2 separate regions of the Homo sapiens genome follow, and region 1 is linked to region 2. Evidence: fine-mapped expression QTL. A gene starts in region 2. The other region holds a variant in brackets. All regions are shown on one strand. Distances are from middle to middle.

Region 1 (15,917 bases), 60 kb after region 2:
AGAGTAACCTGTGGACAAGCACTTGCCATTTTATGTTGCGAAGGGCTTCAGAGAAATTTGAGGTCTTATAAAGGAATTGAGTAGGAACAGCAAATAAAATCCTCCCAGGCTGGCGTTCTGTGAAACTGAGCTTCCTTCAGGCCGTTTCACAACAGAAACTCGGTCCTCCTCTGAAAGCTTTTTTATACCCCTTGATGGAGGTGTCAAGCGTGCACAGGCAGCAATTCGTAGGGCCTGCTTTAGAGAGGTTTCTTTTTGTGTGTATCTGTTAGGATTCACTACTGGTATTAAATATTAACCCACATTTAATTTGCCTCGTGACTTTTCACGACAGATATTGAATGTTAAATACTCTCCAAATCGGATGTTTTTTCCAGTTTTAAGATTTGACGCCCTTATGATCGAATCCATCCACGACTTTTACAGTTATTGAATAACCAACAGACCCTTGGAGGGTCTCTTACCGCTCTGGACTTGAGTTGGTTAATTCCGCTGCAGAGACGGAGTGGGGCGGGGGCGGGGGTGGGGGTGGGGGTGGGGGTGAGTGGTGTAACTGAGGAAGAGTCCCTGGCATACTGCAACTAGGTCAGAAGTGACAGCATTCAGCCCTCCCCTCCTTAGGGAGTGGGGTAAGGGGGCGACCCCGCCCAGTGCAGAGGGTGGCGAGTCAGGAGCCGACGAATGCTGGAGAGGCCATCCGCAGGGGCGGGTCTCTCCAGAGAGCAGCCGGGTGACAACGTGGCACAGAACGGCACTGCATCGGAGTAGGCACACTGCAAAGACGAGACGAGTCCTCCCCAGAGAGGGGAGGCGGTTAAGGAGAGGAGATTGCGTGGCTCGGAGCAGCCAGACCCGGTAAGCCGACTCCTTCCCGTATTCCGCTTTAACCAAGCTTGTTTCCCTGGCGGCCCCACAAATTCCCTGAGCGGAGCGTCTTCGCTGGCTCGCAGCCAGCCAGTCAGAGCCCACCTCTGCGACCTCCTCCTCCTTCCCATCCTGAGGGCTCCTGCCTCGGCTCCCGGCTTCCTCCTCCGGGCTATCTTTTACCCCTTCGGTAGCTGGAAAATCGCCCTCACTCAATCACCACGGTGGTAAATAGGGCAAAACGAGCAAGGCACTCGCCTCGGGTGCAAAATTTAAGGCGGCACCAAGATACTCAGTAATCAAGATAAAACTGTTCATGCAGTCTCTTTAAAATTCAAAGTTATAGCCAAAATTCCGCAAGAAGCTAGATAAGAAATATTAAATAAGGGCAAGCTCAGACCTTGCACTTGAACGACTTAGCCTCACTTGCCTCACCCGAATCCCCGACGCAGCTAATCAACTCTGAAGTGATTCCCTCCTCTCCGTGGTGCCACGTAGTAGACCTCCGGTTTTCGTTGTGTATACGCCTTCCTGGTTGTGTGGGAAGGGGCAGGGACTGAGCCTCAAGTAGCGCAGCCCAGTGCTTTGTTCACCGAGGCCCTGGGGTCAACGTGGATTTTGGAGTAGCCCAAAGCTGAGAGCTTATGCAGCCGCCCCAAGTTGCAAAGCTTTGCATTGGAACCGCCCGATCCCCACAGAAGCAAAGTTCGAGGGGAAACTGCACTCCCTTAATTAGTATTTAGGAACCCCTTCAATAATTGAATTGAGTATAAAATCTTTAAAGTAACTACAAATAGCAGGGAACGGCTTTTGGAATTGTTTTTCTAGAAGAGGGACGCCTCTATGCTTAGAGATTCCTTGTTCCTCTCTAGCTTCCCATGTGTATTTGGTGGTATGGCAGTTCAGTCTGAAGTTGCAATGATACAAGCACCTTTAATGAGGATCACACTCAATAACTTAGGAAGCACCATTTACCTCTCCTAGTAAGTGACTAGACACTGTTAGGTGCTGGCTAAAAGGGGTTTTCAATTCTTACCCCTAGAGCCATTTAATGCTGATCTTGAATTGTTTGCTGCTATTACCGTTAAGGGAGGCGACAAGGGGGGCAAGTAGCTCCGGAGTAGGGGATGGACTGGTTTTATTTATAAATGCTTCTTTTTGTCTTATGCGGGCCAGTGAAAAATGAGGTAAGAGGAAGATCTGTAAAAGATCTGGAGAAGATCAGGAAACGATTGTTCAAATCCGTGTGCCTTTTCTTAAAATCTTTTGAGGTTTTGGGCTTGACCAGCTCTTCAAAAGGAAGAAAAGGGCACATGTGATCCCTGGCCTGCTAAACAGAGTTTGCTTCCCTTGAGGAGGTATCAAGCCAAATTCTACTTAACCTGGAATGGGGAAAAGGTGGGCAGAACGGTCATTGTCGGCATCGCCAAACGGGGGTCACGGCAGATCCCCTTAGCTGTTGGATTTCTTATAGGCCTGGTTTAGCTGTTCCACGCTGTAGCCAGCAGAGGGCACTGTTGCTACATAGAATCTTTTTTGACTGTTTTTGGTGGTGAATTTTCAGAGCTATTTAAAAAACTTCCATCCAGTAAGAAGTATGAACGATTTTCCATGAAATTTTAATGTGAAAAATAGATTATTATTAAAAACTGATGGATGTCTATTTGGTTGTTAACCCATTGAACCATAGAAAGAGAGTGAAGATGTTCCATAACAATCAAAGATTAAAATAGCAAGAACAAAAAATAAATGTGATAATAAATATCAGCATCATATCCCTCAATTGTTTCGAACATAAGTAGTTAGGGCTTTTGCTCATAGGGATGATACTTAAATTTTCAAATGAAGAAAGTTGATTTGTGAATTTATATTACTCATTTGGAAGAATGAAAACTGGGATATGCATGGTCATGTGATCTTATAATGTACAATTCAGTTTTCTACATAGAAGTCTCCAGTAAAATATGCTTCTACGTGCAGTGGGAATTTAAAAATTAACAATGTAAAAGATGTATAATTAATTATCATAAATGAAATAACAAAGAAAGAATGTGTATGATTCTGAGTAGGATTAGAATTGAAATCTGTTCGTTATGTTTAGGTAATATTTGTAGAAATTTAATGGAAGAGTTGTATCGATACTAATTTATTTCTTACCGTTTTGATAGGAATATGTGGAACAAAAAGAAAATTCATATTGTAGAAACTTAGACTCACATTTTGTGTTAGAACCTATGAGCTACTCTGGGTGTTTTATTTTAAGATGGTTTTTGCTCATTGTTATGCTACAGGTATTATCATACATCTTTTCTAAAGGTGGAGGCCTTCTTTTTTATTTAACCAGAAGTTTCTTGTGTTAGGATGATTTTGAGCAGTTAAGAATTGCAAGAAAAAATCTTAACATCATTAGTTTCAAGTGCATTGTAATGGATGAGTGTGTCATCTAGAGCAAGATTGCATAGCTGTACATTTTGGGCTTTCCTGCTTAATAAATGTGTGACCTCAGACAGATTATGTAACTTGTCTGAGCTTCAATTTCCTCATCTATAAAATAATAATAATAATGCCTAACACATAGGGTTGTATTAAATATTAAGTGAGTTAATATATGTAAAGCAGCTAGAACAGTGCCTGGCCCAGAAAAATTCACTTTATTAGTGTTATTTACCTATTATTTTTTTCCATTTTTGTTAATAATATTTGAACATGATGCATTAATTTCCCCTTAGTTTATTGTTTAGCTCTAGAGCTGCTTAGATTCATTTGCATATAATATTGCTTATTTAATTTTAAAGAAGTGGTTCTATGCACATTTAGTAACTTACGCCTCTTAAACATTGGCTATGCAAGAGAATTCTTGAATAATTTCATGAAGCACTCTTTGTCTCTTACTCAGAGTAGAATATTTTGAAGACATCTTTTCTCTGAAGTTTTTAGACAAGCTATAAACTAGTTTGTATTAGTCAGAGTTCTCCAGTGAGACAGAACCAATGGGATAGCTAGCTAGATAGATAGATAGAGGAGAGGGGATTTATTAGAGAAATTTGTTCATGTGGTTATGGAGGATGAGAAGGCCAAGACTGAGGGACTGACAATTGGCAAGGGCTTTCTTGCTGTGTCATCCCATGGCAAAGGAGAGAGAGGCCAAACTTGCCCTTTTGTAAGGAATCCATTCCCATGAAATGCCATTCCCATGAATGGCATTAATCTATTCATGACGGTGGAGCCTAACCACCTCTTAAAGATCTCACCTCTTAATACTGTTACAGTGGCAATTACGTTTCAACATGAGTTTTGGAGGAGACAGACATTCAAACCATAACGCAGCTCCATGACAGAATTTTCACATGCTCCAGAATGTGAATGACAGCTACTCATTTTAAGGGAAAACAGCTTAGTTTAGTGTAAAAAACATGGATATTGGAGTCTGGAGCTTGGACGCTAGCTGTGTGACTTTGGACATGCCACATGTCATCTTTGAGCTTCTGCTTTTTCAAATACAAGGATGTTGTAAGGCCAAAATATGATCAGGTTGTAAAGGGTTTGCCACATACTGAGTGCTCACATCAAAACATATTAGTTCCATTTCCTTGACCTTACTCCCTTTCTCCTTTGATAATGCTTCATTCAAGGGTAGATCGAAGACCTCAGGACCAAGGAGGAAATGAAATGTTAAGAAGATTTGACTGTAACAAAAGGGTTAGTGTTAACACATCCATTCTGTACCTATACAATAGAAGTGCAATAGTAATCTTAGAAGCTGTGAAAGAGCACTGCTGCTTCCTCTCTCTGGGCCTCTGAATTAATCAATGATGTAATATATATAACACATATAATATATATACTATATTATATATTTATTATATATACTATATTATATATTTATTATATATAAATATATATTTATCACATAATAAATATATATACTATATAATATATTTATTATATATAATAAATCTATAATAAATATACATACTATATAATATATTTATTATATAATAAATATATATTTAATTAAATATATAATTAAATATATAACATATTTATCATATATAATAAAATATATTATATATATTTGTATATGTATAGATTAGTGTATAAGTATATATATTTGTATATATTATATATATATTTGTACTAATATACATACACAAATACATATTAGTATAGGACCTAGTTACTGCCTCTAAGGCTTCATGTCTTTCTGATGGTCATATAATGGAATGAATGGGACTTGAGTTGGATGATGAGATTCCATAGATAGAAAGGAAAGAGGGAGCATTCCAACTAGAAGGAATGGTGTGAGGAGAGGTACAAATGTGATTTTGGTCAGGAGCCAATAAGTAAACTAGTCTTTCCAGAGAACCTTTCTTGGGGAAGGTGCCTTGTAGTGCCCACAAATGCAGGAAGCAAGAATTAGGACAAGGTCACCGATGGTCAGTTCAGAAGGCTTATTGAGTAAGCACAACACAGCAGAGGTACTGTTTGGGGAATAAAAAGCTGGTGGCTATGAGGGTGGACTTGGTTATGGCAAAGTTAGTCAGGAAACTATTTTAACAGTCTGGGGCCAGATCATGGAGGGCCTCATAGGCCCCAATTGCTCCTTCATCTACATTTGCTTCAGCTTTTACATCTTTCTAGACCAGTCCTGTTGTTTTACAGCTGTCTTCCATTTCAGTCTTAGATTCTGTCTTCTATTTGCAAGTGGCAATTCTAAAATCCCATTTGATTTCCATAGCATCTAATAAAATTCGGTTTTTTCTCCACCCCACCCCCCCCATGAAAGCAAATTTTCCATACATTTTGTATGCCAAAACCTAGTAACAAGGAAGAATAGGTCAGATTAATCCTAAATATCTGCTGTTTTATTCACTGCAAACATAAACCCTTTCGTTAATATCAAGACAGCTAAACAACTCCACCTCATCTAAGAAATCTGGCATCTGAAGCCCTTTATGATTTGCCTCAACAAATCTTTTACAGTTTTATTTTTACTGCCCACTTCAGCCGTCCTTTGTTTCAGCTTCATCCCTCATCTAATTCCACGCGTACCCAGCAATTTCGTGCCTCCGCCTTTGTCCCTTCCACCTGCTTGCCTTCTCCTCCACACCCTAAAAATTCTACCCATTCTTCAAGGTCCCATTCAAATGCTACTCCTTTTGAGAGCATTGCATGCTGGTCTTACTTTCTGTACTATAAACATTTATGCTATAAAATGAGGACCTATTCTATTCCAGTTACCGTCAAGGCATTCCCAAATGATTAAAACACAGGGAAACAGATGGCACTATAGTGAAATATCCTAAGTGCTGTAATCAGAGTAGGCATTGGAGGAAGGCTCTGAGAGTTTCCATCATCAATTCAAAGCCAGCAGGAGGGATCAGGGAAAGCTTCCTGGAAGAGGTGGCATCAGAGGCGTTTGAACCAGAGTGACTCCATCTTGAGTAGGGGCTGGGTAAAATAAGGCTGAGACCTACTGGGCTGCATTCCCAGGAGGTTAAGGCATTCTTAATCACAGGATGAGATAGGAGGTCAGCACAAGATACAGGTCACAAAGACCTTGCTGATAAAACAGCATGTGGTAAAGAAGCCGGCCAGAACTCACCAAAACCAATATGGCGATGAAAGTGACCTCTGGTCGTCCTCACTGCTCATTGTATGCTAATTATAATGCCCACCAAGCACCTGGATTTAAAAATTGGTAACTATTTAGCCAGGTGTGGTGGCTCACGCCTATAATCACAGCTACTTCGGAGGCTGAGGCAGTTGCAGTGAGCCAAGATCACGCCACTGCACTCCAGCCTGGGCGACAGAGTGAGACTCCATCTCAAAACAACAACATAAAAATTGTTAACATTTTTCCATAAAATAAATTACTGATAACATTGTATATCTATTTGCTTCAGTTCCTCCCTCGACAAAACATATATTTATTTATGTTACCACAGTTCCATTACTGCACCCAATAGAATCAACAGCAGTGGCCGAATGTCATCTAACAGCCTACTCATGCTCCGATTCCCTCAGTTCTTCCAAAACTATGAGTGACTATTTATTTATTAATTATTAGTGAAGCGTTATCAGAAGATCTGAGATCCGAGAACTTGGTACTGTTGTTCACTTGATATGAGTCGTAGTATGGATTGGTAGACGAACAAAACTTAAGACAACAAAATAGATAGTAATTATTTATTTGAAAACATTTTCCTCTCAAAGCTACACTAACCCAAAGAAACTGCGGGATCAACTAAGATCAGCTTGAGGACTCAACCTGGTTACCCAGGAGTTATGGCACTACCAGAAACTCTCAGGCTCTAGAGAGAAAAAAGACTACTGGGAGAGAACTCCAGACACTTGTGGATGGATAGTCAGATGTTTATTCCAACACCATTTTTTGAGTAGTCCATCCTTTCCTTAATGTTCGGAAATACTACCAGACAACTGTAAAAATATTAAAAATGAATAAGTGAACATATTTGTATTATCTTATTGGGGGAAAGACTTTTCAAAGCAAGGCAGAAACAGTTGACTACATAAATACTTGAAGCAACTTTATGGCAAAAGACAAAAGCAATAAAATTCGAAAGTAAATGACATGCTCGGAAAAAATATTTGCAATATAGAGAGGATTAAAAATAAGTTCTCTAAAATGTTAACAGTACCTATAAATCAGTAAGAAAAAAATATAACGTGGAAAAAGGATAAGAACAAGTATTTAAAGAGGAAAGGTGATGAAAGAAATCAATTAAAACAAAAATTAGATACCTTGTGATTTACCTTCTAATTGATACAAGTCACAAATGTTGATTATGTGTCATGTTGGTAAGTACATGAGAGGAAAGAACTGTCATTTGCTTTTAGCATACAAATTGGTACAACCTTTGCAAGGGCAATTTGGCATATATACACACACACACACACACACACACACACACACATACATATATGTGTGTGTGTGTATATATATATATATATATATTTTTTTTTTTTGAGACGGAATCTTACTCTGTCACCCAGGCTGGAGTGCAGTGGTGTGATCTCGGCTCACTGCAACCTCTGCCCCCTGGGTTCAAGTGATTCTCCTGCCTCAGCCTCCCAAGTAGCTGGGATTATAGGCATGTGCCACCATGCCCAGCTAATTTTTTTGCATTTTTAGTAGAGACGGGGTTTCGCCACATTGGCCAGGCTGGTCTCAAACTCCTGACCTCGTGATCCCCCTGCCTCAGCCACCCAAAGTGCCGGGATTACAGGCGTGAGCCACCATGCCCGGCCCTGGCATATATTTTTATTACTCCAAATTTATAAGCTACTCATTTAGATTGCCTCTGTTCCTGACCTCATTTCCTATTTTTATGTTTGCTTTTTCCTAGATGGTGTGCTTCTCACCTCAGCGTGATAGCCTGACCTTGACTCCTGAGTTCCACGATCGCTTCACAACTGCAAGTCACCATCATACAAAATTTGAGTTTCCCTAAGTCCGCGCCTTTGAGAGCTTTGGAACGATATGCAAGTTCAAGTCACCATCCTGTTTCTTGCTACCTCCTGTGAGAAGACCAACATTTGGGTTACACTTGTTTCTACTCTTGTTCTTCTGCTTGTTATTGTTGCCTCTGCAGCCATTGATCACACACGTGTTGTCATACAAAAACTGGTTAGCCTTTTTATTTGTCTTGTGAATTTTATCATTTGGTTCTTAAGTATTACAAATTAATATTGTGTACTCTCATTGATATACAACTTGCAGTCATTGTAAATATGCGTGAGTTAGGGGTGAGAATGGCATGCAAGCAAAAGAACAAGGAGAGGGATGATAGAGATGCAAGAAGAGTAAAGAGGGCAAGAAAGTTTATGTTAATAGCGAACACAATGAAAGTTCTTTAAATGCTTGATAATGGTGAAAGCAACACTTCCTAGGGCATATTTTTGGTGTTAATGAACCTACACATCATACA[A/G]TAAAGAAAATTGAGAAAGCAGTTGGGGCCAGTGAATCGGGGGCACACAAGAATCACTGAGAAAATCATACACAACTCAAAATGCCACAATAGGGAAAATATAAAGAGATTTGCACTTGTGGCTTCTAAAACAGAGAAGGTTGAATAGGTCTCTTTCTGTGTGTAAAATCTGCCAGTGAGCATCACAAAAATGCAAATTTAAATTTCAATCTGGATGGAAAGTTATAAAATTCATTGCAAGTAATGGGTGGTTGGGTAGGTTTAAGAAATGCCAGGTGGGTGGATCACTTGAGGTCTGGAGTTTGCAACTAGCCTGGCCAACATGGTGAAACCTTGTCTCTACTAAAAATACAAAAATTAGCCAGGATTGGTGGCGGGTACCTGTAATCTCAGCTACTCAGGAGGCTGAGGCAGGAGAATCGCTTGAACCTAGGAGGCAGAGGTTGCAGTGAGCTGAGATCGTGCCATCGCACTCCAGCCTGGGTGACGAGAGCAAAGCTCTGTCTCAAAAAAAGAAAAGAAGAGAAGAGAAAAGAGAAGAGAAGAAAGAAGAGAAGAGAAGAGAAGAGAAGCTGTGGCCTGTAATGAAAAGAAGTGGAGAAGTGACTGTCAGAGGAAGCAGATTAAGGAGCTGCCGGAGAGTATCCTGAATACCTGAAGAAGACGATTGAGGACAATGGCAATTTGCCTGAGCAGGTTGTCAGTGCTGCTGAAACTCTGGAAGCAAATGCCTACTTGCACATCTATTGCAAAGCATGAGAAAAGGACCAGAGGCTTCAAGCCTGGAAAAGACAAACTCAAAGTTCTGCTTTGTTCCAGTGTGTTCTGATTAAACCCATGTTGCTTTACAGATTCCAAAATTGTTACCTTCTTTAAAGAGAAAGCCAGAAACACTTTTCTGTGTACATGAAGGGAAACCATGAAATATGGATCACTGAGAAACTCTTTTTGAACTGGTCTTTGAAGTGTTTTGTTCTGAGGTTAAATAACATTTAAATGAAAAAAAAATCTTGACTTCACAGTGTTGTGATTCTGGACACTGCTCCTACAGACAAAAATGCAGTCATAAATGCTGCTCCTTGTGTTCAAGTCATCTCCATTACCCCCAGTACGACTCCACTCCTTCAACTCTTGCATCTGAGAGTGCTAGCGATGTACTGTGCTCTGCATGTATTTTGACTACCTGAAGATCTTATCAGAGACACCAGAACTTTACCATGAAAGTGGCTTGGCAACATTTCTCCGTTTGTAATGCTTTAACAGGTGTAGAAGAATCAGTGAGACAAATAAAACAATCAATACTTAATGAAGTCTGGCAGAAATTTTGGAATGAGGTTGTGACTGATTTGGAAGGTTTCCTTCCAGTGGTAGAAGAAATTGAAAATATTGTAACATCTGCAAACCATTTGAATAGTGAAGGCCTTGAAGACATTGAGTTAAGTGACATTACTGAATTGTTAGACTCTCACCTTCAAAAGATAGTTGAGAAATATTTTGGAGATGTGATCACATCAAAAGGCAATAGAAGAAGCCAGCATAGGTTAACATCCAGAACTCTAAGAATGTTCAAGTATCTACTCCACAAATGAAATTGTCACAATGATTCAAAAGAAAGAGATCCTTTGGTGGGCTACATATTGACTTTCAGGTAAGGCTTAGATGATTACTTACAATCCTATAAAGCAGTAGTAATAAACTTCCAAACAAACACCGATAAGTATTTTCTCTCTGCTTACTTGACAGGGGAGAAGAGGTTGACATTAGGCCATGTCATTCAAACCCGTTCTGCAAACAGGAAAACAGGAAGTAGAAACGCCGCACACAGATAGTTAAACCTTGGGATTCAGACTCTGATGGCTCTGATGATATGGTGATTTGTGTGCTGGGGATGAAAGAGGAGCAGAAGACTGAGCTTACATCTCTTCAGACGAAATGCAATTTTCTCTATTCTTTCCCTGTTACTATTGTTACGACCAAGCATTTTCATTGATCCATTATCATCTTCATCTTGAGATCACAAAGGAAGTTAATTGCCTGATATCCACTCTTGTTAATATAAAATATCAATGATATTTATTTTATTGTTTTAGTTTGGTGAACAAACTGATTGTCTAGGCTTTCATAATACTCATGTCCTTGCCTCATTTTTTCCTAAAAAGTCTTAAATTCCTCCAACATGGGTACTCTGAGAGTTTCGGGAACTCAACTATAGCATTTAAGGAGTGGGCTGCTACTGTACTTGGCTGGATAATTTGATTTTGTACTCCTGAAATTTGTTTTAATTCTGATTAAGCCTAACTTGCGATCTCACCAGAAAGGATTAGTTTGGTATAAGTTAAATTAATTTCTTTTCCAGCAATTGTATATGTTAGCTATTGGCTGATCCTGAAAAGCAGTATATTTATGTTAAATTTCCAGATTTCCTTTGGTAGCTAATCAAGGAGGAACAGCTGCTAGAGTTCATTTTCATAGATTCTTTCTGTTCTCATATCTGGCCTCCTCAGTGATTTGAAGAATTGAATATCCTCCAAAAAATGGATATTATTACCTCCTGTTCTCTGATGGTGATGGAGACTTCATTCTCAGATTGTTTTTAAATTCCTTTCATAATTCCATATATTTACTTCATTTGATTCAATTGTGTTACAAAAGTTATTGTCATGGTTGTTTTAATTTTGGATGTTTGGAATTTTCCAGGCAGATTTAACAGAGGAAAAAAAACCACAAAGCCAGAGATACGACGCTGTTATCTTGTTCTAAGAATTTTGGGCAAAGGCATAGGCTGAACCTGCCTGTTCTTTTGGCTGCTTTACACATTCCCAACTGATGTCCATTTTGAACTCAGTTGGACAGTTATTCTGGGGAATAGAGAGGAAGTCCAAATAACATCGCTGTTGTTTCTGTCTTAATTGCTGTTTGTGCCGGATTCACAGCACTGGCCTCATCATTATATCTGATAATGATGCACAGAAAACCTGAATAGAGAAAAGAAGAAAGATAATTCATTGGCATGTGCTTGCCAAAAAGAGACTTTATATAACTTGAGAAAGCATAAAGACAACCTGGAATGAGGAAATGTATGTACAGTAATGAAAAAAAAATGCTTTAAACAGCTGTGTCAAAAACTGACATCAGAGAGTAAATTGAATTTGGTTTTGTAGGAAGCAGGAAGCAAGCCCACTCAAACGTTGAAATTTGGCATGAGGGAGTCCAGTAACTTTCTCCTCAATCTGTGAACTATATGTGAGTTTGATATTTTGAAGGAAAAGGAAAAAAAAAAGTTTAAAAGGGCTTCTGCACAGCAAATGAAACTAGCATCAGAATGAACAGGCAACCAAAAGAATGGGAGAAAAATTTTGCAATCTACCCATCTGACAAAGGTCTAATATCCAGAATCTGCAAGGAACTTCAACAAATTTACAAGAAAAAACAACCCCATCAAAAAGTGGGCAAATGATATGAACAGACACTTCTCAAAAGAAGACACTTACGCAGCCAACAAACATGAAAAAAAGCTCATCATCACTGATCATTAGAGAAATGCCAATCAAAACCACAATGAGAGCCAGACTGGGATCCGGTGCGGAGAGCCCCTCATCCTGGAAAATTGGCCTCGGCCAGAAAGGCAGCCACCCCCTCGCCCATCATGCATAACACGTTCGTGAAGAACCTGGCGCTAAACCATTCCTAGGCAACCTGTTTCTGGGTCAGGGTTTCGTGAGTAGCAGAGCAGATTCCTCGTTGCCATCTATTGAAAGTGAGCCCTCCACACAAGGGTTTGTCTGCCTGCGTGCTCAGGGGGCCGTTGGACCCGCGCGTCCGGCGCTGTCCCTCTTCCTTCCTTCCTCCCGCCACCCGCCGGGGTCCTCGTTACCCAAGCCCGCGCGTGACCACCCACTCCGGGGGTGTCGCGCGCTGGCCTGTCCGCATCCGCCGCGCGTTAGGCCAGTCAGGATGGCGATTATTAAAAAGTCAGGAAAGGATAGATGCCGGAGAGGATGTGGAGAATAGGAACGTTTTTACACTGTCGGTGGGAGTGTAAATTAGTTTAACCACTGTGGAAGACAGTGTGGCGATTCCTCAAGGATCTAGAACCAGAAATACCATTTGACCCAGCAATCCCATTACTAGGTATATACCCAAAAGATTATAGATTATTCTATTATAAAGACATGCACACATATGTTTGTTGCAGCACTATTTACAATAGCAAAGACTTGGAACCAACCCGAATGCCCATCAATGATAGACTGGATAAAGAAAATGTGGCACATATACAACATGGAATATACTGCAGCCATAAAAATGAATTGAGATCATGCCCTTTGTGGGTACATGGATGAAGCTGGAAGCCATCATTCTCAGCAAACTAACACAGGAACAGAGAACCAAACACCACATGTTCTTACTCATAAGTGGGAGTTGAACAATGAGGACACATGGACACTGGGAGGGGAACAACACACACAGGGGCCTGTTGGGGGGTGGGGGGCAAGGGGAGGGAGAGCATTAGGACAAATACCTAATGCATACGGGGCTTAAAACCTAGATGAAGGGTTGATGGGTGCAGCGAACCACCATGGCACATGTATACCTATGTAACAAACCTGCACGTTCTGCACATGTATCTTGGAACTTAATAATAATTTTAAAAAGGGCTTGCTTGCATGGTTATGGTTGAGACTACAGATATTCTTCAACACGCTCAAATGAGGAAGATGAGGGTTGAAAACCCATTGTAGGATGCTGTGGATCTAGGATTCGCCACAGTTCCAGGAGAGCTTACGCTCTTGATCTAAACCACAGTTGTTCTCAACACTGACTGTGTATCAGAGTAATGATAGAAAGCGTTGAAAAATATAGATTTCCAGGAACTGCACAAAGACCTGCTGAATCAGGGATAGGGCCAGAATCTGTATATTTCAAAATTTCCTTCAGCGTTTCTTTATATAGCCATGGTTTTCAAACTGCCGCTCTAAAGCTAGGGAAAATTATGATAGAAAATATAAATGGTAGTGGGCCCAGGAACTAGGAAACCTTGATTCAAAGTGTTTGTTCTGCCACTAGTTCAATGAATGGTCTTATTCAAGTCACTCCTGCCTTTGTCTTTCAAATGAGAGAATAAGACCACTTGGTGTCTAAAGTCTTTCTATCTCTGACATTACCTTGAGAGAAAGGTGCATCAACCACAATGGTTGATTTTGAGAATATCTAAACTTTTTCATAGAGACCAAAGTAAATAGGATTATTATTGCATTGTGTAATTGTGCTCATGGTTCAAGTTTTACCATGTTTTAGTCCCTCCCAGAAAAGGAAGTAGGGCATAATGCCATAGAAACAAGGCAAATATAAACACCAACTCTCTGAAAGGAAAGAGAGGCAGTACCTACTGGGAGTTTCTTTTTCTATGATAATTGTTTTTATTTCCCCTCTGGGTTATAGGTTTTGGGAAAAATAATGCACAGATATTGTGTGTAAAATGCTAATATTTTGTATCTATTGTTTCCATAAACCAAAACAGAGAACCCTGTATGGTGAATGCTTTAAGTTTTCATAGGTCATTTGCTTCTTCTTAGTCACATCTACAGGTAAATATTTTTAAATCAATGATCTTTTCCTCAGTATAATCAGTGGTTCTATATGACTTTAAAGAATGAGCTGTTTTGGCTGGGCGTGGTGGCTCACGCCTGTAATCCCAGCACTTTGGGAGGCCGAGGCGGGCAGATCACGAGGTCAAGAGATCGAGACCATCCTGGCCAACATGGTGAAACCCCATCTCTACTAAAAATATAAAAATTAGCTGGGCGTGGTGGTGCATGCCTGTAACTCCAGCTACTGGTAAGTCTGAGGCAGGAGAATCACTTAAACCTGGGAGGCGGAGGTTGCAGTGAGCCAAGATCGCACCACTGCACTCCAGCCTGGCAACAGGATGAGACTCTGTCTAAACAAACAAACAAAGAAAAAAAAAAAAAAAAAGAACTGTTTTGATAATTTTACCATTTACTGAGATTACTACCTTGGCCATTTTTTTATTTATTTTGACCAGAATTAGAGAAATAAAAGGTTAAATTGAATTGCATCAACTAGGAACTCTTAATATAAATAATAAAATGAGAAATTGACTATTATATGATCTTAGTTGTCATAGAAATACTTTGACTTTGGCTTGATGTATGGAAACATTTATCTAGGGCCCAGGTCATTTGAAATAAAATATTGAGATAAATCTAATTATTGTTTAAGACAATATCCAGTTAAAACAACCTAAGAAGTATCACTGATGAGAGTCAAAGAACATTTTACTGTGGTTGAGTTGAACAGGTCAGCAAAACTTGTAGGAGGATGAGAAAGTTTGATATACGCTAAAGGTAGAAATAGAAGTTAATGACAACACTGCCATGTAAATGGGTGTTTTTTTCTTCTTTAAGAAAAGCCCCCCAAATATCAAAGCTGAGGTTTCTTTTAGTATGTTTTATGCACAGTTTGAGTGGAGAGAACCTGTTGTCAAATGGCTTGGGTAAATTCTTGAGCTCAGTATTACAAAGTGCATGGAAATTTCGTTCTTTATAGACATGTTTAACCACTGTGGCAAAAAGAAAAAAAAGGAGGGGTGGGGAGAAAGGGCAGCCCAGGCTGATGAGATGTGAAGAATATGTTAGGAAACTTGTATTACATTTAAAAAGAACTTTTTGTTTAAAATCTTTTAAGTTCAAAATGCAGAGAAAGCTCTTTAAATTACACATTTGGATTACATAGCTTCTACCACCCGAATGCTAATAAAGGGTTTTGACAGTATATATAGTCTAAAAGCTTGCGTGAACAAGGTTTATGATGTGAAATGCATTGATTACTGAACTTTACATAGTATTATTACCTTTTAATGGCCTTTGATGTCAGTGTGTTATGGTTGCTTAAGAATTCAGAAATATGATGTACTATGAACAGAGTGTATATATTACTGGGAAGTATAAAATCAAATAGAAAATAGATGAAAGAATTAGTATCATTAGCATAAATAACAAATATTGAGAAATTAAGTATGAATCTATTGTGTTTGAGACACTGCATTTCATCTTTCTTGCATTGCTACGTAAAGCCAAA
Region 2 (15,917 bases):
TTCAATAGTCGGCTTAAAATATTCAGTAAACTATGCTGTAAATAGACGTGATGTCATCCAGGCTTTGTTTTTCCATTTACAGAGCACAGGCAGAGTGGATGTGGCATAATTCTTCAGAGCCCTAGGGTTATCAGAATGGTAAATGAGCATTGGCTTCAACTTAAAGTCACCAGCTGCATTAATCCCTAACAAGAGATCCAGTCTGTCATTTCAAGATTTGAAGCCAGGTATTGATTTATTCTACCTATTAAAGTCCCAGATGACATCTTCTCTTAATAGAAGGTTGTTACGTCTACACTGAAAATGTGTTCTTCAGTGTAGCTACTTTCATCAATGATCTTAGCTAGATCTTCTGGATAACTTGCTACAGCTTCTCCATCAGCACTTGCTGCTTCACCTTGCACTTTTATGCTATAGAGACTGCTTCTTTCCTTAAACTTGTGAACCAACCTTTGCTACCTTCAAATTTTCCTTCTACAGCTTCCTCACCTCTTAGGAGACGAAGGCTAGGGCCTTCACAGAATTGAAGAGAATTAGGGCCTTGCTCTGGATTAGGATTTGGCTTAAAGGAATATTGTGGCTAGTTTGATCTATCCGGACCACTCAAACTTTGTCTATATCAACAATAAGGCTGTTTCGCTTTCTTATCTTTCGTGTATTGACTGGAGTAGCACTTTTAATTTCCTTCAAGAGTGTTTCCTTTGTATTCACTATTTGGCTGTTTGGTGCCAGAGCCTTTGCTCTCAGCCTGTCTCGGCTTTTCACATGCCCTTTTCACTAATCTTATTCATTTTTAGCTTTAGATTTAGAGTGAGAGATGTGGGAGGACTCTTTCACTCGAACATTTAAAGGTCGTTGTTGGATTATTAATTGGCCTAATTTCATTATTGTTTTGTCTCAGGGAATAGGAAATCTAGAAGAGAGAGAGAGAGATGGGAAAACAGCAGGGTGGTAGAGCAGTCAGAACACACACAACATTGATCAATTAAGTTCCCCCCTTTATTTGTTTTTTTGAGATGGAGTCTCACTCTGTTGCCCAGGCTGGAGTGCAGTGGCACGATCTCAGCTCACTACAACCTCTGCCTTCCAGGTTCAAGCAATTCTCCTGCCTCAGCCTTCTGAGTAGCTGAGATTATAGGCACGCAACACCATGCCCAACTATTTTTTTTTTTTTTTTTTTTTTTTGTATTTTAGTAGAGACGGGATTTCACCATGTTGGCCAGTCTGGTCTCGAACTCCTGACCCCATGATCTGTCCGCCTTGGCCTCCCAAAGTGCTGGGTCCTGACCTCATGATCCGCCTGCCTCAGCCTCCCAAAGTGCTGGGATTACAGGTGTGAGCCACCGCACCTGGCCTAAGTTCCCCTTTTATATGGGCACAGTTTATGGCGCCCCCAAATAATTACAATAGTAACATCGAAGATCACTAATCACAGATCATCATAACAGATATAATGATAATGAAAAAGTTTGAAATATAGCAAGAATTACCAAAATGTGACAGAGACACCAAGTGAGCACATGTTGGAAAAATGGCACCAATAGCCTTGCTAGATGCAGAGTTGCCACAAACATTAAATTTGTAAAAAATGCAAGATTTACAAAGTGCAATAAAGTGATGTGTAACAAAATGAGGTATGTCTATATGGTATTATTTAGGGAATAATGACACAGAAAAAAAGTCTATACATGTCCAGTGCAGATGGATTTTTAAAAAATATTTTCAATTTTGAATTCACAGATGAAGAACTCGTGGATATGGAAGACCAGTTGTGTTCATCCTCCATCTGGTCAGTATGGAAAGTTCTTTCTCTAACTTAGGAATTACAAACCTGATTATCATTAATTTCAAAATGTATATGAATTTTAACTTTAAATATAATTATTGTGCAATAATTCTTTTTCTGAAAGTATTTTCCTCTTTATTTTCTAAATTTACCTTTTAATAATTTTTTTCTTTTTCTTTCTTTTTTCTTTTTCTTTTTTGAGGTGAGGTCTCACTCTGTCGCCCAGGCTGGAGTGCAGTGGCACGATCTCAGCTCACTGCAACCTCTGCCTCTCATGTTCAGGCGATTCTCCCACTTCAGCCTCCTCAATAGCAGGCACGTGCCTGCCACCATGCCCAGCTAATTTTGTTGTTCTTTTGTTTTTGAGACAGAGTCTCGCTCTGTCGCCCAGTCTGGAGTGCAGTGGCTCGATCTTGGCTCACTGCAACCTCCGCCTCCTGGGTGCAAGCAATTCTCCTGTCTCAGCCTCCCAAGTAGCTGGGACTACAGGCGCACACCACCACACCCAGCTAATTTTTGTATTTTTTAGTAGAGATGAGGTGTCACCATATCAGTCAGGCTGGTCTCGAACTCCTGACCTCAGGTCATGCACCTGCCTCAGCCTCCCAAAGTGCTGGAATTATCGGTGTAAGCCACCGTGCCTGGCCCTAATTTTTGTATTTTTAGTAGAGATGGAGTTTTACCATGTTGGCCAGACTGGTCTTGAACTCCTAACCTCAGGTGATCCGTCTGCCTCTGCCTCCCAAAGTGCTGGGATTACAGACATAAGCCACCGCGCCAGGCCATTAATTTTTTTTTTCATTTAAAATACTTCAAGCCTACAGAAAAGCTCAAAAAATAACACAGTGAACACCTGTGTATACTTGACCTAGATTTACCAATGATTAACCTATTGCTACATTGCATTTGGTAGTTGTATCTTTTTAATCTTCATTAATCTAGGATAGTTTCCCTGCCCTCCCACTTTTTAAAAATAGTTTGATGGTTCAGGCCAGCTGTCTTCTAGATTGTTCCACAATCTGGATTTAATGATTGATTCTTCAGATAAAATATTTTTGGCTAGTACTTAAATAGATGACGTGTGCTTCCCATTTCATCACATCAAAAGGCACATTTCAGTTTGTGCTATTATTGGTGACATGAAGTTTAATCAGTTAAGGCAGGGGTATTCCAAATCACTCCATTGAAAATGCACATTTTTCTCTTTTATATTTAATTAGTAGCCTATGGGCAATACTTAAAAGTCCTGTGAATATTCTCTTCCCCGGTGTTTTGCCTAATGGTTTTGGTATGCATTGACGATTCTTGCCTAAACCTGTTATTATACTGATGGTTTCTTTTCTTTTCTTTTCTTTTTTTCTTTTTTTTTTTTCTTCGGAGACGGAGTCCCTCTCTGTCACCCAGGCTGGAGTGTAGTGGCGCGATCTCAGCTCACTGCAACCTCTGCCTCCAGAGTTCAAGCAATTCTCCTGCCTCAGCCTCTCGAGTAGCTGGGATTACAGGCACCTGCCACCATGACTAGCTAATTTTTGTATTTTTAGTAGAGACGAAGTTTCACCATGTTGGCCAGGCTGGTCTCGAACTCCTGACCTCAGGAGATCCACCTGTGTCGGCCTCCCAAAGTGCTGGGATTACAGGCAAAGTGCTGGGATTACAGGCATGAGCCACCGTGCCCGGCCTATACTGAAGGTTTCTAAATGGTCAGTTACAAATTCTGTCATTCCTTACAAATATATCTCCTTTTAGAAAAAAGCAGTTTCTTTTCTTTTCTGTTATTCTTTTAGAACAAAGCAGTTACCCTCTCCATTACCACTTTTTCTTTTTTACTATCACTGTGGACTCACGGATTTTTTTATTCTATGTTTTATAGTCAACGACCATTATTATTCCTTTTGATGATCAAATTGTACCAGAGTTAGCCAGTGAGAGCCCTTTCAAGACATCTCCTGTGTCTTTTTGATGTGTTCTCATCATTCTTCAAGTGCTTTTTGGCTTATAATACAAGATACTTCAAGTTCACTTGTATTTTTCCTGCCCCATGTATAGCGTCAGCTATTTTTCCAGTAAACCTTGGTTTCTTTTAGTAGACAACAGTATTTAGAAACTAATACCTGGGCATTAGATGTACTCATTGCTGCTGGTGTGTCATATTAATTGCTACTGGAGTGTCATTGCCTCCTTTCTGTGGACAGACCTAGTAAGATTTGTCTTAGGAAATCATGAGTTCATACTAAAAATTCCGATTCAAATCCGTCACCAAAGGTTTCTTTAGGATTCTCTTCACTTTCTCAGATTCATATTTGTATCTCCTTTCTCCTATAGTGAGAACTCTGGTTCCAAAAATACCCCCAAAAAATGCATTTACTCGTTTGTTCTAACCATGCAGAATATACACACGTGGTGTGTGTGTGTGTGTGTGTGTGTGTGTGTGTATGTATGTATGTGTCATAGTTTTAGAATTTACTTCTCCAATAACATTACCAATAATACAGATTATATTTAAGTTTTCTGGTCAGAACCAAATGATGACGTTTGTTAAAAATACAGATTTCTGGGCTTGTCCCTAGCCTGCCAAAACAGAATACTTGGGAATAGGTCCCTTTAGTCCTCATTTTAAAAAATTAACACTCCAGGTGATTTAGAAGAACTCTGATGTTTGTGATTCAATGATGTGATGAGGAGCTTGAGCTTTAAGTAAGAAAGGTTGGTATCCTCGTTCTGTTACTTAGTCTTTTCAGGTTCATCACCTGGTACTTAGAAAAGTGCCTGACCTATAATAAATACATAATAAAGGTACTGATCTTTTTTTATTATAAGGTACTGAACTGGATTGCCACATATTTCCTATCTGGCAGAAATTAAATTAGTTTTAAAAGCAGTTTATGTAATGATGTAATGTTGAAAAGTTGTTCTGAAGTGAATACATTTGTGAAAATAGAAGTAAAAATTTTCTAAAAGCTACACTGTAAAGATAAGTGTGCATGATCAGTTGAGATGTACGAATATATGTTTGTATATTTTAACATTATATATGTGTTTCTTTACTTCTTCCACCCATCGGGAGTCCAGTATTTTGGGGCAGATTATGTAACAATTCTAATGATAACGTTACCCAAAACTGATGAAAAAAAGAATAACTTCGACAAAATACTTCTATTTTGCAGCCTGTGCATATTATTACCTTATGAACTTATAAAGGGAGGATGGACTATTTTTTATTCACTTTTATAATCCCTGTCCCCACCACCATATTTTGACTGTGGTATTACAGGAATACCTCATTTTGTTGCACGACACGTATTTGTGGAGTGAATGAATCGTTCTTTCTCTCTTTTTTATTGTAGGAAAAATATGTAACAAAAAATTTCCACTTGATTTTAACTGTACAGTTTGGTAGCATTGAGCACATTCATATTAGAACAGGGTTCTACCGACAGCATTGTACCAAGTGAGGGAACCAAAAAATTTTCTGCTTTTCATTGTGGAATGTCATTTGAATCAGAAATCTTCTGGGGACTTTGTTATTTGAATTTCTAACTTTCCTTATTACTTGCCTGGGAGAAAACACATATTGAACAACAAAATGGTAATGTTCATCCTCAGAGACTAGACCTTGTCAATGTTCTCTGATGCCTAGTAGGACCACTGCAGGAAAAAAAAAAAAGTTAATGAGACTGTTGCTAGGAGACGGGAGAGCCAAAAGCTCATAGTCTTGTAGGGGTTCCTCTGGAAATCAAGGCAACTTAAGTGTGTTTTGGATTAGAGGTTTAGCTATTAAAATCTGCCCTTTGAAGAGCATGCACATTTTAGCATATAATGTTTAGTATGATTTCATGTTTTTGGAGAATTTTTGAGGATAATCTCAAGGCATTTCATTTCTTTCCATAGGGATAATCCCTTTTTTTCAGAGTACATCTCATTTCCAAGTGGCTGTTGCGCTGCTGTTTGCCCCCACTCCTTCAGTGCGACAGACAGCCTCAGAGCTGGTGGGGAGACAGCATGCCACTGGTAAGTAGCTGAGAAATATTTTGTAAAATAGATATCCAGACTAAGATTTTTAAAGCAAGCGACATGTTTTGAGGGAATAGAATAATGCAAAATTGTGTAGGAATCTCTGATTCTAATCAGCAGCATTGGGAAATGGATTAATTAAATTCTAAATATTCCCTGGTCATTTTTCTAGTTTAAAGCTTGTTTCTTAAATGATGGAGTTGCTAGGAGGCAATATAGAAACTTTCCCCTTGTGATTCTTGTAAAATATTTCCTAAAATAAGATTTAATGAAGATGTTACTAAATTGGAGAATTGCTTTCAGAATTGTACCTCAGCTTTACGATATTTGTATTTGACGTGATGAAATGGGTTATGATTCAAGATGTTCTCAAACCTGGTTTATTTTCTCAGTGCTGGGAGAGCATAAGAAAAATATTACTTTGCAATGCAGAAAAGGATACGATGCCTCATTTTTTTAAATTAAGAAAGTCGTGTGACGGGATGTCTGTACTAGAGAGAAAATGAGGAAGAGGGCAGTTTGTAATAATGTTCAGATTGATTGCTTCATGTGAGATATGAAAGTGTATTCAATGAGAAACATTAAAATTTGACTTTAGGATGAAAAAATCATGAAAAAGTAATAATGAATATTATGATCGTGCTTTCATTGGAAAAAATTAATTTGTATTTTTGGACAGCGATTTATACAGTAAAGACAAGAGTGTTCTCGGTGCTTCTTTTTTTGAAAAGGGATGTGAGATGGATAGCAGAGATTCTTATCAACGAAGCTTTAATGTTTGTTTCTGAAACATTCCTGAAAACAGAGCTTTTGTAGCTCTGTTTCTGCAAGAAAAACGAAAAAAAAAAGTGAAGTGGTGGTTTATTCCTTTGAAATTCAAACTGGCCCTTGAACGTGAGGAAAAGAAAAATGATAGATAAATAGATTTCGTTTTTGAGTTAGATGACAAAGCAGCAGCAATCAAGGAGGAAAAATAAGAATGAAAAAGCTTAAAAGAAAGTCCTCAAGATGGGCCATTTTCCCAAGTTGAACATGTCTGCTGGTAGCATGTTTTGCAGAGGGAAAGGGAGAGAACATACTGGAGGCAAAGGGAGGGGGTGTTGAACAGAGCACTGCGGCAAAGAGAGTGACTGACGCATCCAGGGACATGTGACCATTCTCTGGTGTAGCGAAGAAAATTTGCCAGGACTCCATCTTGTATAAGACATTCTATACATACTGACATGCAAATAATGCTATAATCTTTCTGTAGTACATAATGAGCTCGTTTTGCGTGATCCTCCACTGGTGTATATTGGTATTTTGTCTTTGCTTCTACGCCTTCCTCTCTGTGCTTCCAGTGCTTTTATACACTTACTAAAATATTAAAAATGATGTTTTCCCCTTTATTATAAAAATATCATAGTCATTGTAGTAAATTTTGAATAATGTAAAGATGATTATAAAAATTACCCATAATCCCGTAACTTAGAGATAATTACTATTAATCTTATTACTGTCAGTCTCTTTTCTCTGAATATATGCAAATAAATGCATAGAAATATATATTTTATACAAAATGAAGATCACATGTACATACAATTTTTAGCCTGTTTGATCCATTAAATATATATTGGGAGCAATTCCCCATATTTTAAAATATTCCACAAGAATGTGGTGTTTTGTGGATGTATAATTTTCTATCATATAGATGTCCCACTAAATGTCCAATTATTGAATGTTTATATGTGCATTATTTTTGCTGTTATAAATAACTGAAGGAATATCTTTCCATATAAATATCTGTGTGCTTTTCTGGTTTTTTCTCCCTAGGAAAAATTCGTAGACATGGAATTCCTGGATCAAATGGTATGAAACAATTTAAGGTTTCTTCCCCCCAACACCTATCACCTAATTTATTTATTATATGTGGTATAAACATTATTTTCCAGCCATTGTTTTCCTATTAATTTTTACCATTTATGGTGGTGATTTTTTGATATTTTACAGTTTTACATGTTAGATTTCCATATCTGACCATTTTAAGTGTTGTGATTTTTTTCTTTCCTTTGATTAGTGTATTCACCTGTATTTTTTTCTAGTTATTTAATTGCTTCATTTTTTACAATTAACTCCTTAATCCACCTAGAATTCATTTTGATATATGGTATACAGTAGGATTTAATTTTTTTTCCCCCTAATAGGTCACCGATTGTTTCAGCATCACTTATTGAATAATCCAACGCAACAACTGTTCTTCCATTAGATAGGGTGTAGCTTTCCACAGGTCGGCCATTTTCTCTTTACCCAAGATGGTTACATTTTGCAATGGTACTCCTACCTTCCTGCAGCTTCTGACAGCATACTAGAGCACCATGTTTGTGCTTGTGCGTTTCAAAAATCCTAGGCACATGCAGATTAGGGCAGTATTTTAAACAGGATTTTTTTTTTCATTTTAAATATGTTAAGTTTGTCACATTCTTGTTGCAAATTAAAATTAAGGAATCCAAATATATGAAACCACGGTTTCAGGTGTGCTATTCCTCTTAGGCGCACCTGATATCCCAATTGTGTGTTAAAAAAAAAAATACCCCCGGGGTTAAAGTTCCTCCTTCAACCTCTTTTTTTTTTTTTTTTTTACTCTTCAGATACTCAAAGAGTTAAAGTTGGCTCGACTCAGTTCTTGGAATTTTCTAGAATGATATAAGAGGGAAATACAAGAAATGTATGAGGAGTAGAAGTAAATAATGTTTGCCAGCCTGTTGCTGGCCGTAGTCTCATGTAGGGATTTAAAGGAGCTAGGGTGAGTCCTAACCCATGCCACCACTGCCACTACCTCTTCTAGATAGGGACACACCCCAGTGAGCCACCTCTTTTCACTGCAGGTGTAAGGCTCAAGACATAAGGCAAGGAGTTTTTTAGTAGGAGATGGGTTAAATATTGCCCAGAGAAATCTGACAATTAAAATCACTTGCTACCTATTACCAACCCTCTCCCGGGCCCCCAACGAAGCTTTCTCTCTCTATTGACTTCTGCACCGGGCCTCTTAGCTTTACTGATTCTGGGGGGGAAAAAAAAGGGCGGGGGGAGGATGGCGCGTGAGTGGGAGGCTGCCTTGCCTGCGGTTATTGCAAGGGGCTCCTTTGGCTCACAGCCTCAGTCCCAGTAGTTTCCTGACTTGCCGCATTAGACTGTGTTTTGTTTATGAGGAGGCTGGTTTCCCTGGCAATGGCAGCTCGCCAGTGCATGCGCATTTGCTCCACTGCAGTAGCAGAATGCGGCTGTGGGGCCAGGGGAGGGGTCCTGAGGGCCGCAGTGGCTGGAGTTATTTGGCAGACATGACGTCAGTTTTTCTGAGCTAAACTGCCATCGTTACTGTATATGGAGCATTTTTTTTTTTTTAAATAAAGCTTGGAAGGCTTTTAGCCACTCCTTTTCTTTCCTCCCAAATTAACTGCTCTCTATATGCTCACCAGTGACCACGAAGGCTTTCTAAGGTTTGAGGCCACCGATGCCCTCAGGGCCCCGAGGGGAATCATAATAGTATGAGAACAGGAAACAGACTGCCTGGTTTCAGACCTCGGCTGCTTGCTAGTTGCATGACTGTGGGACGGGTTACTTAAATCTCTTCGTTTCCTCAGATGTAAAATGGGGATGCTAACAGCATGTTTAGAACAGTGTCTGGCACATAGTAACCATTATGTAAGTGTTGTCTATTATTATTTGTAGATACTAAGGGGGACTTGCCTGGAAGCAGACTTGTGTCCGCAGTATACAAACTCACCCTTTAATGCACACACTGACCAGATAACACAAACACATTTACCCCCACAGCACCTAGACTCTTCTCACAGTACACACACTTGCCTTCCAGTACACAGACATATCCAAAGGCACACCGACAAGCACCACAGCAAAAAGATGTTCCCCAGAACACATGGACACCCCAATCCCCGTATCATTAGACTCTCCCAGAGGCACGTATGTACTGCTTAATGCAGAGACTCACCTGAGGCACACTGATGCACCCCGCATGACACAGACTTGCCCCCCCATAAGGACTCTACTATGACACACAGACAATCCCAACATCACACACTGTTCCCACATCACACGAACCCATTTTAGGAAACACACAGCATACAGACTTACCCCATAGAACACGGCTTCCCCGACAAGCACACATACTCTCAAGGCCAGTAGACTCACCCCACAGCACACAGACTTTCTCTAGAGTGTACAGCTTCTTCCCACAGCAAACAGACTCTCCCCAGGGCACACAGACACCCCTGACATCACATACTCTCACCACAGACCATAGACTCGTCCTAGAGCACAGGGACTCTTGCCAATGAAACAGACTTTCCCGAGAATAGACTCATGAGACAGCTTGAAGACCCGCATCATGACACAAAGACTCTCCCACAACAGACAGACTCACCCCATTGTGTACAGACAAGCACCATAGGCCACAGACCATCACCTCAGGACACAGACTTGCCCAGCACCACACAGACACTCTGCAGAGCACGTAGAGTCACCCCGCAAAGCACAGACTAAACCCATACTACAGAGACTCTCCCTATAGCTTTCAGACAAGTTTACCCCACCACAGAGACATGCAACGGTACATCTTACAACATATATCACTCCTTGATGCACACAATTGTGCCACAGCACACAAACTTGTCCTACAGTGCACAAATTCATGTCACAAAAGACACACTCACCACACAATACAAATACTTGCTCCAGCCGGACGCGGTGGCTCACGCCTGTTATCCCAGCACTTTGGGAGGCCTAGGCAGGTGGATCACCTGACGTTGGGAGTTCGAGACCAGTCTCACCAACATGGAGAAACCCCGTCTCCACTAAAAATACAAAATTAGCCGGGCATGGTGGTGCATGCCTGTAATCTCAGCTGCTCCGGAGGCTGAGGCAGGAGAATCGCTTGAACCCAAGAGGCGGAGGTTGCAGTGAGCCAAGATTGTGCCACTGCACTCCAGCCTGGGCAACAAGGGCAAAACTTTGCCTCAAAAAAAATAAAAAAATAAAAAAAAAAACAACCCAGCAACAAAAACAAACAAAAAAAAACAATTACTTGCTCCAGAGTTCACTCATTTGCCCTAAAATATCTAGACCTTACCCCAGAGTTACCACACAATGCATGCTGTGTCCCTGCATCACCAAAATACAACTCAAACTCCTCAGACACACTCTGATAAATAGACATACCTGACAATGTACAGCTTGGCATCATAGCAGGAAAAACTGGCTCTACAACAGATTTATTCTACAACAGACACACTCAGGCTGTAGAGACACCTAATCTTTCTTTAAGGTATTCAGACCCACCCTTTTGGGCACAGTCACAGATGTGATCCAGGATACCCTCACCCATCCCACAATACTGATGCAACCCACAGCGTACAAACACATCCCACAGCATAACACTCTAAGCCCACAGTGCTCAGAAATGTCAGGCACACATTTGCCATACAGATTTACTTCACACACAAAAAACACAGCCAGGTGGGTGGCTCATGCCTGTAATCCCAGCACTTTGGGAGTCCGAGGCGGGCGGATCACAAGGTCAGGGGTTCAGGACCAGCCTGTCCAACATGGTGAAACCCCGTCTCTACTAAAAATACAAAAAAATTAGCCGGGCATGGTGGCACATGCTTGTAGTCCCAGCTACTCGGGAGGCTGAGGCAGGAGAATCACTTGAACCCAGGAGGTGGAGGTTGCAGTGAGCCGAGATCATGCCATTGCACTCCACCTTGGGCAACAGAGTGAGACTTCGTCTAAAAAAAAAAGAAAGAAAGAAAGAAACAAACAAGAAAACAACAACAAAAAACACTTCTTATAGTGCCTATACAATGCAAACATGTATCCCAAAATATATGAAACTATTTGCTATGTCACTCTTAGGTTTACCCCAAAGCACATAGACCGTTTTCACTGCTCAAGCTGCTGCCTACAAAACAGGAGATGCCAAGCCATGCACAGAAATTCACCAAAATGCACAGATTCACCTATCAATATACATACTTGCCTCACAACTCACACAAACACCACCGAGCACTGAGACTCACCCTAAATGTACAGACAAGCCCTTCAGGGCACAGACTTACTCTGTAACATACTAAATCACATCCCCCATACTTAGATGTGCCTTATGATTCACAGTGATGCGTGTAAACACATAGATTGCTTCCACAATGCACAGAATTGCATCATAACACAGACTTACTCTACAGTGCAAAACTGACAGTGCACATAAACATTTCCCAGTCGGCTAGACACACAACACACATATTACTCCTACAATGTAAAGATTTCCATCACGGTGGACAGACGTGCTTTTCCATGCTGTTGAGCTACAACTCTGGCCTACAACAACAGAAATACAGCTTGTGTAATAGTTACCAGCAAGGCCTCTAGACCCATACTAACTGGGTTTGAATCAAGGTCCCGTCCCTTGCTGATTGTATCACCTTGGGTAAGTATATTTCTTTGTTCTTTAGTTTGTGCAACTGTAAAACAAAGATAAGAGTAGTGCCTACTTCAAAGAGTTGTTGTGAGTAATAAATACGTTAAGATTTGTTAAGTGCTTAGTACAGTGCCTGGTACATAGTGACTATTAGAATTGTTAATGTATATTACAACCATCACTATCATTACTACCAAAACAAAAAAGGCCTACCCCAGATATCTAGAATCATCTGACAACAAGAAGGCTCACCATATAATATATAGATTAGCCCTAGAACGTCTAGAAACACTCGACAGCACACAGACACCCCGCCATAGTACCCACATACCCTACAGACCAGAACCCTAACCAGATATCACTCACAACACACAGAATTGCATCACTAGTAACAAATTTGTGCACAGGCTTGCTCTATAACACATCCCACAATACCCAGACTGGAAGCCAGGCTGTGTGTTGTACCCAACCTCACCCCACAAGGCACAGGCCCACAACATACACACACACACACACACACACACACACACACACAGACACACACACATCCTAACCTCATAGATATGCCCTACATCATACAAACACACCCTATCACACATATTTTTGTTTCACAACATGTGGATACCCCTGCTCTTCACAAACATGTTCCTAAATACATGCTCCTAAAATTGGCAGCATCACATGATAACACAGAGCCCCCATTCCACAACATTTTTTTTTTTGAGACGGTGTCTCACTCTGTTGCCCAGGCTGGAGTGCAGTGGCGCAATCTCGGCTCACTGCAGCCTCCGCCTCCCAGGTTCAAGCAATTCTCCTGCCTCAGCCTCCCGAGTAGCTGGGAATACAGGCGCGTCCATGCCTGGCTAATTTTTTTGTATTTTTAGTAGAGACAGGGTTTCATCATGTTGGCCAGGATGGTCTTGATCTCCTGACCCCGTGATCCACCTGCCTCAGGCTCCCAAAGTGCTGGGATAACAGGCGTGAGCGACCGCCCCTGGCCACAACGCATTTTACACTTACCTCATGCTTGTCCCATAAAGAACTACATGCCCCACATCGCCTAAGTTGCCCATAAATCTGACTTACCGAACACTGCCACACGTATGACCAGGCCCCATACCACACAGATTTGCTCTGTAATACCTAGATAAGTCCTAACATGCAGAGATCACCCCTAAACACAAAACCATCCCAACTGCACAGCGTCATATCACAACAGACACACACACTCATCCCATAACATGCAGACTTGCACGAAAACACCCAGACTCCCACAAAGCAAACCCACGCCCACAATGCTAATACCACACAACGCCCAGACTGGCACAAGACAAAGACTAGCCTCAACTCATCTAGTCTCAACCCACATGATATAAAACTTGCTCTACAATGGTTAAAAGCTTATATTCAGGTCTCAGACTGTCTGAGTTCCAATCCCACATGCATCACTTACTAGTTGTGTGACCTCGGAAAGGTTTCTTGAACTCTCTGTGCCCCAGTTTTCTCAGCTACTTGTTAGGAATAATAATGTAATAGGGGTACTTACCTCTTATAGCTGTTAAGAGAAATAAATGGGCTGGGCGTGGTGGGTCACACCTGTAATTCCAGCACTTTGGGAGGCCGAGACGGGTGGATTAGCTGAGGTCGGGAGTTCGAGACCAGCCTGACCAACATGGAGAAACCCCATCTTTACTAAAAATACAAAATTAGCCGGGTGTGGTGGCACACACCTGTAATCCCAGCTACTTGGGAGGCCGAGGCAGGAGAATCGCTTGAACCTGGGAGGCAGAGGTTGCGGTGAGCCAAGATCATGCCATTGCACTTCAGCCTGGGCAACAAGAGCGAAACTCCGTCTCAAAGAAAAAAAAAGAGGAATAAATGAGTTAATGCCTATAAAGTGTTTAGAGCAATGCTTGGTAAAGAGTCAGCGTTATTGGTGTTACCTGATCAGGTTGTCATTGTTGTCATTACTCCACACGAAATTGGACCATAAAGGTAAGACTCAATCTAAAACAACTCGAATCAACCCACAATGCATAGAATATCCCTCATAAAGCACAGAATTGCATCATAGTGAATACTCTCACCGCTCTTTTCCTATAACACCCATCCCATATTGACTGCACCTATTCTTTTTTTTTTTTTTTTTGAGATGGAGTCTCGCTCTTGTTGCCCAGGTTGGAGTGCAGTGGCGTGATCTCGGCTTATTGCAACCTCCGCATCCTGGGTTCAAGCAATTCTCCTGCCTCAGCCTCCCGACTAGCTGGGATTACAGGCCCGCCACCACAAGCGGCTAATTTTTGTACTTTTAGTAGAGATGGGGTTTCGCCATGCTGGCCAGGCTGTTCTCGAACTCCTGACCTCAGGTGATCCACCCATCTCTGTCTCCCAAAGTGCTGGGATTACAGGCATGAGCCACCGCGCCCAGCCTGACTGTACCTATTCCGTAACGCCTAGAAGCATCTATCATATAGAGTTTCTGCATAACACCTAGACTTATCACACAACAGCTAGACACGCTACAATGCACAACATACCCAACAAACAGAAACTCATTCATGAAAAGACTCATCTCAGTTTAAGCAAATGCACTCTATCATACACATACGTGCTCTACAATACACATACTCACCCCAGAACACCACATTGGCTCCACAACACAAGGAACTCACTTCAAAATCTCTAGAAACAATCCACAAGCCATAGACTTCTCCAATATGCAGAACAGCATCACACCACATAAACTTGACTACAATTAACAGACAAGAAACCAGGACATGTGCCATAACACATACATTATCCCCGTGACATAAATACTGGTCCAGCAAAATACTGTCTTCCCTATACAACACTAAGATGTGCTTCATAAAATACAAACTTGTTTGACAACACAAATTAAAATATTTCAGAATGCACATATATACTCCATAACACACAGACTTGCTCTACAACACACCGACACACCCCATATCACCCAGATGTGACCCAAAACACACAGCAATACCCGATAAACAGTCACTCCTTTTTTTTTTCTTTGAGATGGAGTCTTACTCTGTTGCCCGGGCTGGAGTGCGGTGGCATGATCTCAGATCACTGCGACCTCTGCCTCCCAGGTTCTAGCGATTCTTCTGCTGCAGCATCCCCAGTAGCTGGGACTACAGGTGTGCACCACCACGCCCAGCTAATTTTTGTATTTTTAGTAGAGACTAGGTTTCATTTTGGCCAGGCTGGTCTCGAACTCCTGACCTCAGCTGATCCACCTGCCTCGGCCTCCCAAAGTGCTGGAATTATAGGCGTGAGCCACCACGCCTGGCCTCAGTCTCTCCTTTTAACACACAGACTGGCCACACAAAATAGCTTCTTCCTGCCACGACTTCCCTCACAGCAGCACATCCCACAAAGGATGGTCCACATACAGAGAAACACAATGTGCAGATATGTTCTGCAACACACAGCCTTCCTGGACAAGACCTAGACTCGCCCGGAAACACCCAGATCCATTTTACATTTTAAAGACTCACATCCCAGGCCAGGTGTGGTGGCTCACGCCTGTAATCCCCGCACTTTGGGAGGCCGAGGTAGGCGGATCACAAGGTTAGGAGTTTGAGACCAGCCTGGCCAACATGGTGAAACCCTGACTCTACTAAA

Alleles and levels. Positions count from the first base shown, and alleles are read on the strand shown. Sizes are in standard deviations (SD) of each study's normalised expression.
As copies of A replace G in region 1, the expression in tibial nerve of the gene that starts at base 5,748 in region 2 goes up (small effect, 0.19 SD a copy in GTEx).

The links. PIP is the estimated chance that this variant, and not a neighbour inherited with it, causes the effect.
Region 1: its variant is fine-mapped to the expression of LINC00632 in tibial nerve (GTEx, PIP above 0.99). The same link has a PIP of 0.9 or more in subcutaneous fat.

Annotation. Positions count from the first base shown.
Region 1 is chrX:140,763,844-140,779,760 of GRCh38, forward strand. It overlaps LINC00632 (long intergenic non-protein coding RNA 632), which reads left to right. Exons shown (of 5, transcript NR_173140.2): 4 at 8,235-8,515. Among named protein-coding and RNA genes, the nearest start is that of LINC00632, 62 kb to the left of the region's middle. The variant A/G (reference allele first, on the strand shown) is at 8,817.
Region 2 is chrX:140,704,012-140,719,928 of GRCh38, forward strand. It overlaps LINC00632 (long intergenic non-protein coding RNA 632), which reads left to right and starts at 5,748. Exons shown (of 5, transcript NR_173140.2): 1 at 5,748-5,794; 2 at 7,610-7,645.